2 linked regions of the Homo sapiens genome follow. The protein of the gene in region 2 purifies or fractionates together with the protein of the main gene of each other region. This does not show direct contact. Each region holds a gene or a part of one and is shown on either strand. Other genes may lie near its edges.

Evidence for each region. Proteins that work in one complex are often made in the same cells at the same time.
Region 1: the proteins of SCRT1 (region 2) and VRK3 purify together in Homo sapiens (affinity purification with mass spectrometry; one large-scale study listed by BioGRID and IntAct). This does not show direct contact.

The regions. Positions count from the first base shown.
Region 1 is NC_000019.10:49,994,373-49,997,872, reverse strand, and holds part of VRK3 (serine/threonine-protein kinase VRK3), read left to right. Parts: intron 1-302; coding exon 303-369; intron 370-2,597; coding exon 2,598-2,682; intron 2,683-2,953; coding exon 2,954-3,059; intron 3,060-3,500. UniProt on the Homo sapiens protein: Plays a role in the regulation of the cell cycle by phosphorylating the nuclear envelope protein barrier-to-autointegration factor/BAF that is required for disassembly and reassembly, respectively, of the nuclear envelope during mitosis.
Region 2 is NC_000008.11:144,333,683-144,337,850, reverse strand, and holds the start of SCRT1 (transcriptional repressor scratch 1), read left to right. Parts: upstream 1-1,368; 5' UTR 1,369-1,681; coding exon 1,682-1,796; intron 1,797-2,659; exon of another isoform or gene 2,660-2,864; intron 2,865-3,734; coding exon 3,735-4,168. UniProt on the Homo sapiens protein: Transcriptional repressor that binds E-box motif CAGGTG. Can modulate the action of basic helix-loop-helix (bHLH) transcription factors, critical for neuronal differentiation.

The DNA.
Region 1 (3,500 bases), on a different chromosome or scaffold from region 2:
TTGGTCATGTGGTCAGTCCTCACTGCAAAGGAAGCTGGGAAACGTAGTTTTTATGCTGAAGGCTACATTCTAGGGAACACTGTGGCTCTTACCATAAGAGAAAGAAAAGGAACCTGGGTACAGCAAGGTAGCTCGCAGTCTCTGATGTGTGTTTGTGTGCAGTACCTGAGGAATTTGGCTCCGATGTGGGGACTTGATGAGGAGCCTGGTCATTGAGGGAGTAACAAATTGCCAGTGGGGACTGGGGGCCCTTATCTGAGACTTCAGTGTGACAGCCTTCTGCCCCTCCTGTCCCCCACCAGGATGCCAAGGATGGGCGCTTGTTCAATGAGCAGAACTTCTTCCAGCGGGCCGCCAAGCCTCTGCAAGGTACCTGACAGGGAACTGGGCAAGGAGGGGAGAGTGAGGGGGGCGCCAACTTGGTCACAGCACTTGACTTCTACCTGCAGGCATGAGAAGGGTGGGCTTAGATTAAAGGCCCAGGTTTGCTCCCATCTGTGTCCATAACCTGACTCCTGTGACCCCTCAGGCCTCAGTGTGTGTTGTGACTGGCTCACACCAGCTCTTGGAAGCCAAGTATTAAATTTTCAGGCTGGGCGTGGGTTGACGCCTATACTCCCAGCACTTTGGGAGGCTGAGGTGGGCAGATCACTTGAGGCCAGGAGTTTGAGACCATCCTGGGCAATGTGGCAAAACCTTATCTCTACTGAAAATACAAAAATTAGCCGGGTGTAATGGCATGCACCTGTGATCCCAGCTACTCAAGAGGCTGAGCTGAGAGAATTGCTTGAGCCCGGGAGACAGAGATTGCAGTGAGCTGTGATTGTGCCACTGCACTCCAGCCTGAGCAACAGAGCCAGACCCTGTCTCCAAAAAAAATAAAAATAAAAATAAATTTTTAGGAAGATGGCAAGCTGGTTGTTACAGACAGCCAGTACTAGCAATTAAATTATATAGGCCAGGCGTGGTGGCTCATGCCTGTAGTCTTAGCACTTTGGCAGGCTGAGGTGGGTAGATCACCTGAGGTCAGGAGTTCAAGAGTAGCCTGGCCAACATGGTGAAACCCCATCTCTACTAAAAATACAAAAATTAGCCAGGCGTGGTGGCGTGTGCCTGTAATCTCAGCTACATGGGAGGCTGAGGTGGGAGAATCACTCGAACCTGGAAGGTGGAGGTTGCAGTGAGCCGAGATCATGCCACTGCACTCCAGTCTGGGCGATAGAGTGAGACTTAGTCTCAAAAAATATATAAAATAAGTTACATAATTTTACAAATAAATTATATTCAAAACAAAGGTAATGAACCCTCAGAAATTCATCACTTCCTAATTATTTCCTACATGTCCTGTGATCTCTGCCAGTGAGGTTGTGTGCACTATTGTCTCTGTGTGGTGAGAATGCTGCATGATGGCCTCCCCTGTATATCTCTCCCACCCCACCTCCAGTCATGTCATGTTGGTAGCTTGGAGTTGGCCATAGCAGGAGTATTTATTTACACTGCAGAAATTAGCAAATGCAGTCGGGCGCGGTGGCTCATGCCTGTAATTCCCACACTTTTGGAGGCGGAGGCCGGTGGATCACCTGAGGTCAGGAGTTCGAGACCAGCCTGGCCAACATGGCAAAACCCATCTCTATTGAAAATACAAAAAAAAAAGGCCGGGCGTGGTGGCTGATGCCTGTAATCTCAGCACTTTGGGAGGCCGAGGCGGGCGGATCATGAGGTCAGGAGATTGAGACCATCCTGGCCAACATGGTGAAACTCCATCTCTACTAAAAATACAAAAATTAGTTGGATGTGGTGGCACGTGCCTGTGATCCCAGCTACTCGGGAGGCTGAGGCAGGAGAATCACTTGAACCTGGGAGGTGGAGGTTGCAGTGAGCCGAGATCACGCCACTGCTCTCCAGCCTGGTGACAGACGAAGACTCCATCTCAAAAAAAATAAAAAATAAAAAAAAATTAGCTGGGCCTGGTGGCAGAAGCCTGCAATCCCAGCTACATGGAAGGCTGAGGCAGGAGAATTGCTTAAAATCAGGAAGCGGAGGTTGCAGTGAGCCAAGATCGCGCCATTGTATTCCATCCAGGGCGACAGAGCAAAACTTCGTCTCAAAAAAAAAGAAAAAAGAAATTAGCAAATGCTACCCATCAGGACTGCCTTCCCTGGATAGCCAGCTGTTAAACTAGCATCAGCTCGCCATTGGTTCTGGTCCACCCCACTGAGATCTGGAAGACAGGCAGAGGCACATTCCGGTGATGCCATGGCTAGGTTAGACACGTGTTGATCTTGTTAGCTCTATGTGTGAATTCGGAAGTAACCCTGTCATTATCCCATCTCTGCACTCCAGACTTGTATATGCTTCCTCCAGAGCCACCATGATCACCCCATCACCTGCAGACCTGGATCACAGACATTCATGGTCACCCATGCCTGCCCTGTCACCAGCCCCTTCCCACCATCACCCACCCACAATGTTGTCACCTCCAACAAGGAGACTTGGAGGCGGTCTGGGCACTCTGTGCTTCTTCTCTGAGAACTAGCTCTTACTGCCATGGGCTTGGGACTGGGTGGGTTCTAACCTCAAGCCCCTGCTTTCCGCAGTCAACAAGTGGAAGAAGCTGTACTCGACCCCACTGCTGGCCATCCCTACCTGCATGGGTTTCGGTGTTCACCAGGACAAATACAGGTGAGCTGCTCTGCTCACTGCTTGCCTCACCGGCCTCTTTCCTCTTCTTCCTGTTGTGACTCCAGGCATGGCTGGGACCCCGAAGCCGTGGGCCAGGTCTTTGCTTCCTGCCTTCTCGTAGTTTTGACCTAGTTTGCTGCCCAGCCAGTCAGAACCTTTGATCTCACCTGGGACCAGGACCTTGCAGCCCACGCAACAGTCCATCCTTGGCGGCCGGTACTCCTCTCTCCCCTGTTCATCTCCCACCTCCTGGGGTGCTTGTGTCTTCCAGGTTCTTGGTGTTACCCAGCCTGGGGAGGAGCCTTCAGTCGGCCCTGGATGTCAGCCCAAAGCATGTGCTGTCAGAGAGGTCTGTGCTGCAGGTGGCCTGCCGGCTGGTGCGTACCCAGAAGTTGCTCAGCTGCCGCGTCAGGGAGGGCACATCACATCCTAGTTTAGCAGGCACTTTAGTCATTGACACTTCCGGCCCCCACCCCCCTCCGCTGCACACTGGGGGCTGGCTCACTGACTGCCATGGCAGGCGGTTAGAGCCGAGATGATGGGTGGTCAGTCCTGTGGAGGGCCCTTGGGGGGCCATGAGCATTGGAGGAAGGAGCCCCGGCCTCAAACTGAAGGCTTAGATTAGGCTTCCTGGTGGAGGGTGTTTCTAAGCCAAGACTCTCAGGATGAGTGGAAATAGCAAAGTGCTGGGTGGAAGAGGAAGAGGATAGATGAGGAGAGGATGGTCCGGCCAAGGATACAGCTGGGGCAAGGCTTGTGTGGAAGGGAGAGCATATGGCATTTGTTCATTAGTTCATTCATTCATCCCCATTAAATAT
Region 2 (4,168 bases):
AATTGGGGACAGAGGCACCCGCGCGCGGCCATTGTGCGGCCCGGAGCCCCGGAGCCCCCGCGCCCGGCGCCCCGCCATTGGCCGCTGAGCCTGACGTCATGGGGGCTGCAAACGCTGGGCGGGCGGCCGAGGAAAGGGTTATCCGCCTGGTTGCGGGGCTGCCGTGGGGAGCTGCAGCCGCGCGGAAGGGCGGAAAACCCCCAAAGCAGCAGAATTTCTGGAGCAGGGTCGTGGCAGCCCCTCTCCAGCTCCACACCCGGCTCGCAGCGACGCCGCTGCGCCGCACACCCGCCCGGGGGGAGAGAGGCGGGGGCGGGTAGGCCCCTCCAGCGTGCACGGGGTCAGCCGGGGTGACCGAGCGGCGGGAGCCACTGCGGCACAGGGCGCGCGCTGCGCTTTCGCTGCCTCAGCACTTGCTCCTTCGGCTCCCGCCTCCCCCGCCCGCCCCCGCAGATCCCGCGCCCCAGGCCCCGAGCGAGGCAGGCGGGACTGGGGTCCTCCCTACGTTCCTCCCCACAAGACCCCGAGTCCGGGGCGCTTGGGTCCCAGGCCTGGCTCCATTTCTCCCCACACGCCCGACAATGCTGCTGGCTGCCGGGCCGCGGTTCCCCGAGCCGCGCGGGGGAATTCCCCACTCGCGCAGGCTGAGGCATCCCCGGGACCCCTCCCAGGAGACCCAGGCCGGGGCTCGGCCCAGCGCAGCCATTTCCGCCGGCCTCTCCCCCACCTCCCTCCCCCTCCCCCAGCTCCTGGGCTTTAAAAGCCAGAGGCTGGGCCGGGCCGCAGGCAGAGGCGGCTGCGGGCTCTGGAGGCCGGGCCCAGGAGCAGTCCGAGCGCCGAGCCCCGCCCCCGGAGCCCCTGTCCCTCCCTCCCTCCCTCCCTCGGCCCGCCCTCCCTGCGCACCCCTCCCCCCAGGACCCCCGCCCCCCGCCCGCCGCCGCCGCCGCCGCCGCCGCCGCCGTCGCCACTGCCGCTCGCTCCGGCTGCAGAACAATAAAGCAAGCCTCCCAGAGACCCCCGCCGAGGACCCCTGCCCGGCGGCCAAACCCCCGCGGACCGCCCCTCTCCGCCCGCGCCGGTTGAGCGCGCCCGGGCGCTGGCCGCGGTGCTGCCCAGGCCGGCGCTGGCCGCGGTGCTGAAGCTGCCGGCGCTGCCGCTGCCACCGCGTTCTCCGGGCCCGGCGCCGCCGCCCCCGGGGGCATGGGGGGCCGCTGACTGAGGCTCCGCCGCGGCGGCGGGGGGGGGGAGGGGAAGGGGGCCACCGAGCCGGGCCAGCCCTGCACCCACTCGCAGCCTCCAGGCCCGGGACGGAGCCGCTCCCCCCCTCTCCGCCCCCCCAGCCTCCTCCCCCGCCTGTCCAGGGGCGGCACTGCGGGCTGGGAAGCCGGGACCAGAGGAGGGAAGGAAGGAAGAGGAGAGGAGAGAAGAGGAGAGAAGGAAGGAAGGATTGAAGGAAGGAAGGAAGGATTGAAGGAAGGAGGAAGAAGAGGGATCCGGAGGGGCAACGGAGGAGACGCAGGGCAGCAAGGAGAGAGGACACCACTCGCGCGGCAGCATCCAAAGGCCAGAGTGGGGACCCGCGCTGCCTCCGCCGCTCCTCGGATGGTGACGGGGCCCTGCCGCCGCAGCCCCCCCAAGCCCCGGCTCCGCAGGCCCACAGCGCCGGAGCCCCGCAGGAATCATGCCCAGGTCCTTCCTGGTCAAGAAGGTCAAACTTGACGCGTTCTCTTCGGCCGACCTGGAGAGCGCCTACGGACGCGCCCGCAGCGACCTCGGCGCGCCACTGCACGATAAAGGTGAGCGCTGGTCTGAGACCAGGGCGCGGGGCCTGGGGCTTTGCTGGAAGCGGTGGAGGGCCAGAGTGTGGGGGCGGAGGGCAGGGCCCGGGGAAACAGACTGAAGGGAACCAGAAACGGCAAGAGTCTGTGGCTGGAGCCTGGACGGTAGAGGGGAGGAAGGGGAACACAGAGGCCAAGGCTGGGCAGGGAGAGTGTCGACGTTGGACAGAGGGTGGGGAAGAGGATCAGGAACTGAGGTACCCAAACGCACACATGGACCCACATCCTGACCCATGCTGGGACAGACACAGCCGCATGGGCGCTGCCATGACGGGACCCAGCCATGCCGGCACACACAGACCTACACTCAAGAGACCAGGGCCGCCTCGCCACCCTCTCCTCTTCCTTGACTGCACCAGGACACCTGCTAGGGTTAGCTGGGGAATGCAGGGAGCTCCAGGGAGTAGGCAGGGGGTCCAACAGGGCCGCCCACCTGTCAGAGCAGAGGGCCAGCAGAGGCAGCAGCAGTCTCTTCCCTGAAGCCTGGGTCAGGGAGAGGAAGCAGGGAGGAGGCTGTGAGCAAGGGACGCCCAAGGTGTGGGAGGCAGGGGGAGGCTCTTTGTGTAAGGGTGCCCAAGTTCAAGGACAACTGTCAGCATGCAGGAGAGGGGGACAGGAGTGCCAGCAGCATGGGGTGGCAGAGCAAGTGTGACCTGCAGGAGTGTGAGCCTGTGTGGGTCCATGTGACTGTGTGTGGCCATGTGACCGTGTGCGCTTGTGTGTGACCCTGTGTGTGTGTGTGCTTGCCTGTGTGCCACTACATGGGACCATGTGACTCTGAGGCCGCTGTGCACCATGTGACTTGAGAGTGTGTCCGGGGTGACTGCATGTGTGACCCTGCGTGAGTGAGGAGGTGGTGAGTTCGGCACATCAGTGTGCAGCCCACCCTGTGAGGGCACACAAGGGCTGATCATGCTGGGAGACTGGGTGTAGCCCTGAAGGAGGCAGAGCGTCGCGAGGGGCGTGCATTTGTGACTTTGAGGTTATGAGATCCATCTTGTGCCTGGGGAGCAACTGCAGCTACCGGTATAAGTGATGCTGCCCTCCTGCAGCTCGTCCCTGTGAAAGTGGACGCCCTGGCCCTCTCTGCACAGTTCAGGGGCTTGGGAAGGCCCTGAAAGGGGTTAGGGTGTGAGCAGGAGAGGGCAATGTTGAACAGGGTAGGACCCAAGGGTGCAGGATGGTGAGAGGGAGTTCGGAGGAGAAGCAGAGTGCATGGAGGAGCAGGGAGGGCAGGGTCAAGTCCAGTGGGTGGCCGGAGAGCTGAGGGAGGTGCTGGTGAGGCCGGAGGGAACTGGGGGAGGGAGACGTCTTCAGGGCTTGTTGGAGGAACCAGAAGGCCAGAGGGGGTCAACATCAAAATGGAGCGCACGTTCTGCAGGCCAGAGGGAGAGCCGGCCAGGACCCCGGAGAGGTGGGACAGACGGGGTCCCTGGGCCGGCAGTCCTGGCTTTGTGCGCCGCGGGTCTGCAGTGTGTTGCATAATCAGGGAAAACTGCTGAAGTGGGGAGAACCCGAGGGGGAGGGGAGGGTGGGTGGGGGAGGAGGGAGAGGGAAGCGCCGCCCCTCCCCCCTGACCTTGAGGCTCCGCGGAAGGGGGGCAGCCGCGCCCGAAGACGCGCCTCTCTCCTCCTCTCTGCGAGGGTGGGGCGGCGGGGGCGGAGCGTGGCCCGGCCCTGTCTCATCCTCTCCTCCCCTCTCTTCCCCTCCCTGCTGTCTCCATCCTCCCTGCCCGGCGGTCCCTCGGCCTCCTCTCCTTTGTCCTCCTCCCTGTTCGCCTCTCTCCCGGACCCGGGTCTCCCGGTCCGCGTCTGCTGTCTCCCGCCCCCCCATCCCCCGTGTGTGTCCTGCCGCCGCCCCATTCCCTTCCCGCTGTCCGTCCGCCTCCGCCCGCAGGGTACCTCAGCGACTACGTGGGGCCCTCGTCCGTCTACGATGGCGACGCCGAGGCTGCGCTGCTCAAAGGGCCGTCGCCGGAGCCCATGTACGCAGCAGCTGTGCGTGGAGAGCTGGGTCCGGCGGCTGCAGGGTCTGCGCCGCCGCCCACCCCGCGCCCGGAGCTGGCCACCGCTGCGGGCGGCTACATCAACGGCGACGCGGCCGTCAGCGAGGGCTACGCGGCGGACGCCTTCTTCATCACCGACGGGCGCTCGCGGCGTAAGGCTTCCAATGCCGGCGCTGCCGCCGCTCCCTCCACAGCCTCGGCGGCGGCCCCCGACGGCGACGCCGGAGGCGGGGGCGGGGCGGGCGGGCGCAGCTTGGGATCCGGGCCGGGGGGCCGGGGCGGCACGCGCGCGGGGGCAGGCACCGAGGCGCGCGCGGGGCCAGGG